Linked DNA regions of Homo sapiens: region 2 is linked to region 1. The links come from fine-mapping of genetic effects on gene expression. A gene starts in region 1. The other region holds a variant in brackets. All regions are shown on one strand. Distances are from middle to middle. Region 1 holds the start of RNF168 (ring finger protein 168). Region 2 overlaps RNF168 (ring finger protein 168).

Region 1 (5,000 bases):
TTGTACTTAAAAATGGTTAAAATGTCAGTTTGTTATATACATTTTGGACAATATTTTAAAAATAACGCAATATACCAAAAACCATTAAATTGCACACTTTTAAACATTTTACTGAATTTATGTTACCCAGACCGGCCTCAACTCCTGGGTTCAAGAGATCCTCCCACCTCCGCCTCCCAAAGCGCTGGGATTACAGCTGTGAGCCATCGCTCCCGGCCAACCGCACACTTTTAGTAGGTGAATTGTATGGTCTGCGAGCATTTGAATAAAGCTTTTTCTTTTAACTATTGTTTAAAAATGTTTAAAATGGCATTTTTTTACAATAAAATAAACGTATGTTTAAAAGGCAGGTACACATATAACTGTGACCAAAAAAAATTAGAAAAAAAAAAAAAAAAAAAAAAAAAAAGACCTGTCCACGAGAGAACGGAGACACCATATCCTAAGCCCAGACAGGAACCACCGCCCGGCTTATTGCTCACATTAGTGGAGGAAAGAGTCAAGGGTTCAGTTTGGGGCTCCTGAGTCTACCGGGTGCAGGGTTGAGTGATAAAAAAGCGACTTTAGCCTCGTCGCATGATTAGGAGAATCAAGAATTAAATGAATGGAGATGTATAGATAAGTAAATCAGAGGCCGGGCGCGGTGGCTCAAGCCTGTAATCCCAGCATTTTGGCAGGCCGAGGCGGGCGGATCCCTTGAGGTCAGGAGTTTGAGATCAGCCTGGCCAACATGGTGAAATCCCGTCTCTACTAAAAAACAGAAAAATTCCCCGGGCGTGATGGTGCACGCGTGTAACCCCAGCTACTCGGGAGGCTGAGGCAGGAGAATCGCTTGAAACCGGGAGGCGGAGGTTGCAGGGAGCCGAGATCGCGCCACTGCACTCCAGCCTGGAGGACGGAGCGAGATCCTGTCTCAAAAAAAAAAAAAAGAAGGCTCCAGACGGGCAATTCTTTAATTTTTAACACAACAAACACCCATCGAACACAGCGCGGGCATTTTGACAATGGACAAAATCTTGCCCTTGACTTTATAATCCATCGACATTTGGGGACCCATAAACCCCCTAACCTCTGAGAACTATTTAGACAAATACTAGTCGGGTTTTTTGGTTTGTTTTTACTTTTTAAATGGAAAAGTGATGATTCACCTTTTCAAAGACTTGCGGCTTTTGGCCAACAAACACGCCATGGTTTACTCACCCACTTCCTCTGATTCTTGGCCAGACGCTCTAAGCTTGCACTCCCTGGGATAGTGTTTTTGAATTATCGTCCACAGTTCCACGTTGACGAGAGAATTTCTTCGGGTATGGTACCGAGTCCACGACGATACCCGGCGGCGACAGAAGGGACAGCATAAACTCGCCTTTTCGACGGTCGACTGGAAGCACGGTTTACACAGCGTGTGGTTACACGGGAGGGTGACGGGCTCCACGAGGATTTCCATGCAGATCCCGCACTGGCACTCGGACAGCGAGGGGATGGCGTCTTTGGGTAGAGCCATTTCAATATGTTAGTAAAGCCGACTAAACAACGACACCTGCACGAAAAAGAATCCTATTTTCGGCCAACCACAGAGAGAGCAAAAGCAGTTTTGTGTTTCAGTATTATGCCCAGAAGCGTATCAGAATTCGGAGAACAGGAGCATCCAACACGTCTTGAAGCAAAAAGGCGCTCTCAGGGTCAGGCAAACAGGAATACCCCGGAGGGCGGCGTCTTTGTCCATTTTCAAGGCAAACGTCCCGCCAGCAAATAAATGCAGGTTTTCGTCGGAGGAGCCTGGCTGCTCCGCGGCATGAACACCGCGGCTGCGGCTCCCGGGGCAGCGAGGGGAACGCGCCAAGTCCTCTCCTCCCCTCACCCGGAAAGGATGCTCCGCTCAGCTCGGGGCAGCCGGGCCCCGGGACGCGGCTCCGGGAGGAAGCCCGGGCTCCGGCTGCAGCATAACTTCCGCTTTACCGCTGCTGCGGGGGAGACGCGCGACTCCCGTGTTCACCTTTCGGGCGCCTGGCGCAGTTTCCCAGAGCTCCGCGCCCCCGTCCCTCCTACGCAGCCAGAAACCCTATTCGTTGCGGCAGCGCAGCAGCCACCGGACAAGCGCTAGCAACGTCACAACCGCCCGCCAAAATCGCACTTCCCACCCAGAAAACTGCCCAAGGGCGAACGTTCCCGGGGCGGGACTTCCGGGGTCTGCGCGCCGCCCGCCCTCCCTCCCAGCCGGAGACGGTCCCGCCCTGGCGTCGCAGCCCCGCCTAGTGCAGCCTGGGTGGAGCCTGACCTTTCCCTGAGATTTCTGCGAGGCCTCAGACACCCCTGGTTTCTTGGTTTCTGGGTAGAAAAAGGGAAACCTCAAAACAAAATCAACAGCCAAACAAGGCCGGGTGCGGTGGCTCACGCCTGTAATCCCAGCACTTCGGGAGGCCGAGGCGGGCGGATCACCTGAGGTCAGGAGTTCAAGACCAGCCTGGCCAACATGGTGAAACCCCCGTCCTTACTAAAAATACAAAAATTAGCTGGGCATTGTGACAAGCTCCTGCAATTCCAGCTACTCAGGAGGCTGAGACAGGAGAATCGCTAAACCTGGGAGGCAGAGGCTGCAGTGAGCCGAGATTGTGCCACTGCACTCCAGCCTGGGGGACAGAGCAAAATTCCACCTCAAAAAATACAAATAAATAAATAGATAAAAGAATTGGGGTCTCACTGTTTTATCCAGGCTGGACTACAACTCCAGGGTTCCAGGGATTCTTTCGCCTCAGCCTCTGGAGTAGCTGGGTCTAGAGCTTGCAACTCCATAGCCAGCTCCGGACCTGCATTTTTTGAGGGAATCAATCAGTGTGAAGGAAGAGAAAAGAAAATCACTGTGCGTGAAAGCAGCCTTTAAGTTGTTTTGAGGCTGCTGAGAGCATTCAGGCTGGGTAGGGGATGGTTTCCAGGTTGAGAACAACGAGGAGACATCGGTCGTTGGTAGAAGTCTTTGGGAACTTTCATTTCAATGTGGGTTCAGAAACCTGTTATTGTCTGTGATAGCTCACACCTGTAGTCCCAGCACTTTGGAAGGCCAAGGCGGGAAGATCAGTGGAGCCCAGGAGTTCAGGTCCAGCCTGGGCAACATAGTGAGACCCTGTCTCTACAAAAAATAAAAAAATTAACTCGGTGTGCTGGCTCACACTTATACTCTCAGCTACTCTGGTGGCTGAGGTGGGAGGATCACTTGAGCCCAGGAGGTCAAGGCTGCAGTGAACAGTGATCGTACCACTGCACCCCAGCCTGGGTGACAGGGCAAGACCCTGTCTCAAAAAAAAGAAAAAAAAAAGAAACCTGGGACTGTCATCTGGTTGTCTACAGTAACAGTACCTTAGCTTGGAATTTCAGGCTTGTTTTTTGTTCGTTTGTTTGTTTTTTTGAGATGGCTCCTCATTCTGTTGCCCAGGTTGGAGTGCAGTGGTTTGATCTCAGCTTACTGCAACCTCCACCTCCTGGGTTCAAGCGATTCTCATGCCTCAGCCTCCCGAGTAGCTGCAATTACAGGCGCGTGCCTTGTAATACCACGTGCATTGTAATACCACGCCTGGCAAATTTTTGTATTCTTAGTAGAGATGGGGTTTCACCATGTTGGCCATGCTGGTCTCGAACTCCTGACCTCAGGTGATCCACCGGCCTTGGCCTTCCAAAGTGCTGGGATTACAGGCGTGAGCCACTGCACCTGGCCTTCAGGCTTCCTAATATGTCCACAACCTGCTTTTCCCATCGAATCTCCCATTATTCTTTTAAACATGCAACTATGATTTATTCTCTGTCATCCAAACGTTTTGCTTTCATGACATTGCTTTCTCGGTTCATCCTAAATGGGTTGCTTTGTGGCTGTGCCTACTTCAAACACCAATTTAATGCAGTTGGGCCAGGCACGGTGGCTCATGCCTGTAATCCCAGCACTTTGGGAGGCCAAGGAGGGCGGATCACAAGGTCAGGAGTTCGAGACCAGCCTGACCAACATGTTGAAACTCAGTCTCTACTAAAAATACAAAAATTAGCTGGGCATGGTGGCAGGTGCCTGTAATCCCAGCTAGTCGGGAGGCTGAGGCAGAAGAATTGCTTGAACCCGGGAGGCAGAGGTTGCAGTGAGGCCAGATTGCACCACTGCACTCCAGCCTGGGTTGACAGAGCAAGACTCCGTCTCGAAAAAAAAAAAAATTAATTCACTTCTTCCAGAGTGCACTTTTATGTGCAATTTAATGCACTCCCCACCACCAGTAATGCCCCTTTTCTAAACTCACCCAGTCATATATTGCCCAGTGATACTGATTTTTATTGCAGTTTTACTATTGAACTCCTGTATTTTGATTTCTATCTTCAGGTGCTTATGTCTTGTGTAATGGATATATTTCATGTACTTCCTCAGATTTCCTTCACTTTGTTTGCTTTCTGTACCCATAATCACTTGCTCTTTTTGGGGCTCACCAGTTGCATTTCCGGAATCTCTGGCTTCTCCTGCCACTTCTGAACAATGCAGGAGCTGACTTCTCAGAGGCTGCTAGGGCCTCGGTAATGCATGCTGGGAGGGTGGGGGGGTCACTCCCCATGGAGTAACTTTCACCAATTGAAACCAGTGGACTGACCGAGCACAATACTTAAATTCCCTTTTCTTCTTCCTTCCAAGGATGGTTTCTCCAGTGTGTCTGGAGACAGGCAAGACTGAGGGAGTGTGCCTGCTGAAAAAGCTGCTGTGTCTCTTGTGGCTCATTTTCAAGGAGGGGACAGCAAGGTAACACATCACCATGTATTACTTCACATCCTTCTCTACCTAACTTCCTTCCAGCTTTCTTCACTCTGGCTGTCCTGAATTTGTACCTCCCAAATAAAGCATCGGCACTTAATCTTTACCTCGAGGGCAGGATCCACATTTTTAATGTTTCTGTTATCCACAGTACCTAGTACATGGCATTTGGTATTCGATAAATATTATAAATAAATGGTCAAGATGTAAGAATCTCCTTTCTGGTATA
Region 2 (5,526 bases), 31 kb before region 1:
TCTTAACTCCTTCTGCATAGTTCAGTTTCCTTTCTGGCAACTAATTCCCAATTTCCTAGAAAACCCTGATTTTCTGATTTAACACTGATTCGAATCCACTTTAAACCAAAGGAAACAGGCCGGGCGTGGTGGCTCACGCCTATAATCCCAGCACTCTGGGAGGCCGAAGCAGGTGGATCACCTGAGGACAGGAGTTCAAGACCAGCCTGGCCAACATGGTGAAATCCCATCTCTACTAAAAGTACAAAAAAAAAAAAAAATTAGCTGGGTAGCTGGGTGTAGTGGCACATGCCTATGATCCCAGCTACTCGGGAGGCTGAGGCAGAAGAATCGCTTGAACTCGGGAGGCGGAGGTTGCAGTGAGCTGAGATCGCGCCATTGCACACCAGCCTGCGTGACAGAGCAAGACTCTGTCTCCAAAAAAAAAAAAAAAAAAAAAAAAAAAAAAAAATCTGGGATTTCCCACATATGAATATGAATCCAAATTTTGAAACTCCGTCTAAAAAAAAAAAACAAACACCAAAGGAAATGCTACAATGCTGAAAATTGAATTAAATTGGAGATGGAAATTAGATTACTTTAGGAAAACCTTTTGAGTACTCTGTAAACATTGGACAATAGCAAGAAAATGGATTTTAAACCCTGCATGGGTTCCTTAATCACTCAGAATAGTATAATCTTGCTTTGATTACCAGTCACGACAAAAAGGTGAGCAAAGGCCATAAAACATGCAGTTTTTGGAAAGACAATGGCACTTGAAGATTTCCTGGAGTTGGCCAAAGCTTAAGATATCTCTAAGAATTGTAAAGCTTAATACACATCTGTTATTAAGAAGGGAAACGACAGGGGACCCCTGCTTACCGCTGAGCTGTGCAGAAGCTCATGTGTCTATGCAGTCCTTACAATCACACAGACCTTCATTAAGGACAATGAGTGTGCCTAGAGAGCAGCATGAATGACACATGGATGAAGATTCCATGATAGGAAAGAGCTTCACATTCCAGCTTTACTAGATCACAAAGCACTCCCTTTACCAGGCCTTACTTTGTGCATCTCTGAAACATCTGAAAAACACTTTTCTGTGAAATGCTAGGCTGTAGGGAGTGAGCACTTTTGGATACCTTACAGTGATCTCTAGTAGAATTTGGCATCTTTCTTCTATTAACTGACTGCTTCAACTGCATCTTTAAAGACACTTGCCTATTTTTGTCCCTTGAGCCTCTCTCTGGTGTTGGATGCTTTGTGTGAGTTTGCCTTTTGAAGTTCCCATCTTTGGGATTCTTCCTCTGTCCATTTAGCACTTTGTCTGGAGGGGAGGATGTAGCGCGTAAGTGATACTCATCTGGGGATCCTTTTTGCCGGTTTGGCACCATTTGCTCTTTATCCACCTCCTTCTGAAGTTGTAATGCCAATAACCTGTCCTGTTCTTCTTGTTTATGTCTCTCAAACAGTAGATGCTCCAAATCTATCAGTTTTTGGGTAAAGTTTATTTCTGTTTCCTCTTGATCTGGGGAAGATTCGGGGGACACTTTTCTTCTTTTTGCAGAAAAGCATGGATCCTTGACTGCTTCAAAGGAAGATTCTTGGTTTTTTCTTTTGGAAATCTCCTTACTGATCAGTAGGCACGACTCTTCATTTTCTGTCTCACCTGTGTTGTTTCCATTTGTCTGTGTCACCCCTGATGTGGGGGCGCACCCACTTTCTGTTCTGCCACAAGGCATAACTGCAGTTTCTTTCGAGTAGGGAACTCTGGTTTTAGGTCGCTCGTGACTTAAGACACATAACTCTTTCCCATGATTGCTTGGTCTTGTTTTGACGTTTCCTTCATGGTACCATTCGGCACCACAGGCACATAACCATGGCATAGGGGACTCTATTGAAGAATCTGCACCTTGTTCTCCAACTCCAAGGGATATCTGTGGAGAAAGTGTCGGCATATCTTCTATTTCTGTGTCTTGCCCTGTTGGGCTTTTCCTATCACTACTGTCAATGTCCTGTAGAAAACAGAAAAAGACTGAGTGAACCAGGGGAAAATATCAAATCATAAGATGTAAGTCTAATTACACTGATACTACAGCTGGACTGTCACTATACATTATTATTACTAATAAGGTATATATTTCTTTCTTTCTTTTCTTTTTTTTTCAGAGTCTTGCTCTGTCGCCCAGGCTGGAGTGCAGTGGCGCGGTCTCAGCTCACTGCAACCTTCACCTCCCAGGTTCAAGTGATTCTCCTGCCTCAGCCTCCCAAATAGGTGTATATTTATTCTTAATAGTATTTTTATTTCATGGGCAAATTTAGATTAAGCTATTACTTCATTTTCACTCCCATGAAAACCTACAGATTAAAACCCACAGACTAGATTCCAAATATGGCCAATAGCTGGTATCAGGACCTGACCTTCTTTCACCTTACAAAGGTCTGCCAGCATAGGGGTTTTTAACTCTTTTCTCTACCGTGGACCCTCCTTTTGGCATTTAGGTGAAGCTTACAGACCACTTCTGAGAATAATGTTTTTAACTAAAAAATTAAGATATACAGTAGCTTTACAAAAGGAACAATTTATGTTGTAAACACAATCATTAAAAGGTTCAAAAAAATGTGAGGTAATAATGTGCATCTATAATACAGTAAATAATAGGATCTACCAGCCAGTCTAATAACTCATAATACCCAATTATCTGTGTCACCCCTGATGTAGTACACCCACTCTCTGTTTTGCCACAAGGCACAACTGCAGTCTAATACCAATGTAGAGATAAGTATAAATGATATTTAAAGATATCTGTAACATGGCTGGGCACGGTGGCTCATGCCTGTAATCACAGCACTTCCGGAGGCTGAGGCGGACAGCTCACCTGAGGTCAGGAGTTTGAGACCAGCCTGGCCAACATGATGAAACCCCATCTCTACTAAAAATACAAAAATTAGCCGGGCGTGGGGGTATAAGCCTGTAGTCCCAGCTACCAGGGAAGCTGAGGATGCACCGAGCATCCACTGTACTCCAGCCTGGACGATGGATTCTCTCTCAAAAAATAAACAAAACAAAACAAACAAG[CA/C]AAAAAAAAATACCTAGTGTTTGGAAGATAAAGCTTGGGACTTCTATAAGTTACTTCTATAAGTAACTTGACTGGGTGTATTTCTCACCAAGACCCCTGGAAGCTAGACCCATTGTTTGTTATAAGAAATAATTGACCCTTACAGGGCATGTGGTCTCAAAGTAGTTAATACACTCACTTGTGTGGCCTTTTTCCAGGCTATCACCTTGGAGCTCTGCTGCTGAGGACTCCTGCTGAACACACATGCCTGATGCTGCCTTACTAGCATACTTTTTCTCATCTTGCAATTTTTTTTTTTTTTTTTTTTTGAGGTGGAGTCTCACTCTGTCATCCAGGCTGGAGTGCAATGGCGACATCTCAGCTCACTGCAACCTCCGCCTTCCGGGTTCAAGCAATACTCCTGCCTCAGCCTCCTGAGTAGCAGGGACTACAGGTATGTGCCACACCTGGCTAATTTTTTTTTTTTTTTTGGTATTTTTAGTAGAGATGGGGTTTCACCACATTGGCCAGGCTGGTCTCGAACTCCCAACTTTCTGCCTGCCTCAGCCTCTCAAAGTGCTAGGATTACAGGCCTGAGCCACCGTGCTTGGCCTCCCATCTTGTAATATTCTTTTTTTTTTTTTTTTTGAAACAGAGTTTCACTCTTGTTGTCCAGGCTGGAGGGCAACGGCACGATCTCAGCTCACCGCAACCTCTACCTCCCGGGTTCAAGCAATTCTCCTGCCTCAGCCTCCCAAGTAGCTGGGATTACAGGCATGCGCCACCACACCCGGCTAATTTTGTATTTTTTTGTAGAGATGGGGTTTCTCCATGTTGGTCAGGCTGATCTCGAACCCCTGACCTCAGATAATCCACCTGCCTCAGTCTCCCAAAGTGCTGGGATTACAGGCGTGAGCCACCGCATTCAGCTCCATCTTGTAACATTCTAAGTGAAGCTGGTGCCAGGTATAACCTATTCAGTTTTGTGAGTTTGGATTACATAGGTCAAGGATCAGTAATCTATGGCTCATGGACCAAATCCAGCCTCCTGCCTGTTTTTGTAAACAAAGTTTTACTGGAATGCATTCAAGCTGATGTGTTTACATATTATCTATAGATGCTTTCACACTACACCAGCGTAGCTGAGAAGCTGTGACACAGATCACACTAACTGCAAAGGCGAAAATATTCACTCTCTTAGAGAAAAACTTTGCTTTTTGTAGTATGTTTATTTAAAAAATTGTAGTTTCCTTTGGAGAAAAAGTGCTTTTTCTCTAGGTGAGCCTAAGAGGACTCAGACAGGGTGTTTGATTAACTATAGGGGCTTTTGTTAAAAGGTAGAAAACTATGGATAGCACTAATCTACAGCATTAATGAACCAGCAAAACTCAGAACATCTTCAGTATCAACATACCTTAGATACGGAGTCTTTCCTGACTTCTTGTACAGCTTCAGAGTGTGAGGCTGACCCAAACTGAGATTTCGGTGTCAAATACCTAAAAGAAAAGTTTACCAAAGTTTCAATGCTTTCAAAGACAGATGGTATGTACCCAACATAATAAAGCTATTTATACCGAAGGTTGTCTGGTTTGCTGCTTGGCTGTTTTATCAGAGTGTATCTCATTTCCGTGCTTCAGATATTTTGGTCAATTCCAGGACAAAACTTAAATGATTGAGTATTGATATTTTAGTGAAAAACAGAAAAGGAAGTAAAAGTCAAATCTAAATATTTTTTCTTTTTTTTTTTTTTTTGAGATAGAGTCTCGCTCTGTCACCCAGGCTGGAGTGCAGTGGTGTGATCTCCGCTCACTGCAAGCTCCGCCTCCCGAGTTCACGCCATTCTCCTGCCTCAGCCTCCCAAGTAGCTGGGACTACAGGCGCCCACCACCACGCCCGGCTAATATTTTGTATTTTTAGTAGAGACGAGGTTTCACCGTGTTAGCCAGGATGGTCTCGATCTCCTGACCTCGTGATCCGCCTGCCTTGGCCTCCCAAAGTGCTGGGATTACAGGCGTGAGCCACTGAGCCCGGCTAAATATTTTTTTTTCTTTTCTTTTTTTTGAGACGGAGTCTCCCTCTGTCGCCCAGGCTGGAGTGCAGTGGCGCGATCTCAGCTCACTGCAACCTCCGCCTCCCGGGTTTAAGCGATTTTTCTGCCTTAGCCTCCTGAGTAGCTGGGATTACAGGCGCCCGCCACCACGCCCGGCTAATTTTTGTATTTTTAGTAGAGACGGGTTTCACCATGTTGGTCAGGCTGGTCTCGAACTCCTGACGCTCAGGTGATCCGCCTGTCTCAGCCTCCCAAAGTGCTGGGATTACAGCCGTGAGCCACTGCGCCCAGCGTAAATATTTCTTAATTCTTGAAAAAAGCTTAAAAAAGCAGATAGCATCAAAACAATGCAAGACTCTATAGTCTTCCCAAAAGTAATGAAAATGATGCTTTAAACTAGGAGAAAGGATATGTTAGTTTCTTCTTTATGCTGGAAAT

What was found. PIP is the estimated chance that this variant, and not a neighbour inherited with it, causes the effect. A credible set is the group of variants that fine-mapping cannot tell apart.
Region 2: its variant is the best candidate, but not a certain one, in a credible set for the expression of RNF168 in whole blood (INTERVAL, PIP 0.75).

What each region holds. Positions count from the first base shown.
Region 1 is chr3:196,501,673-196,506,672 of GRCh38, forward strand. It overlaps RNF168 (ring finger protein 168), which reads right to left and starts at 2,096. Exons shown (of 6, transcript NM_152617.4): 1 at 1,201-2,096. The coding sequence starts at 1,501. It overlaps LOC105374306 (a long non-coding RNA gene), which reads right to left and starts at 380. Exons shown (of 2, transcript XR_924896.3): 1 at 1-380. LOC105374307 (a long non-coding RNA gene) reads left to right here and starts at 3,680. Exons shown (of 3, transcript XR_924897.3): 1 at 3,680-4,539; 2 at 4,655-4,759. RefSeq lists enhancers at 206-890, 891-1,574, 1,226-1,295, 1,336-1,425 and a silencer at 2,046-2,345.
Region 2 is chr3:196,470,779-196,476,304 of GRCh38, forward strand. RNF168 (ring finger protein 168) reads right to left here. Exons shown (of 6, transcript NM_152617.4): 5 at 4,453-4,534; 6 at 1-1,994. The coding sequence ends at 1,041. Among named protein-coding and RNA genes, the nearest start is that of RNF168, 30 kb to the right of the region's middle. The variant CA/C (reference allele first, on the strand shown) is at 3,059.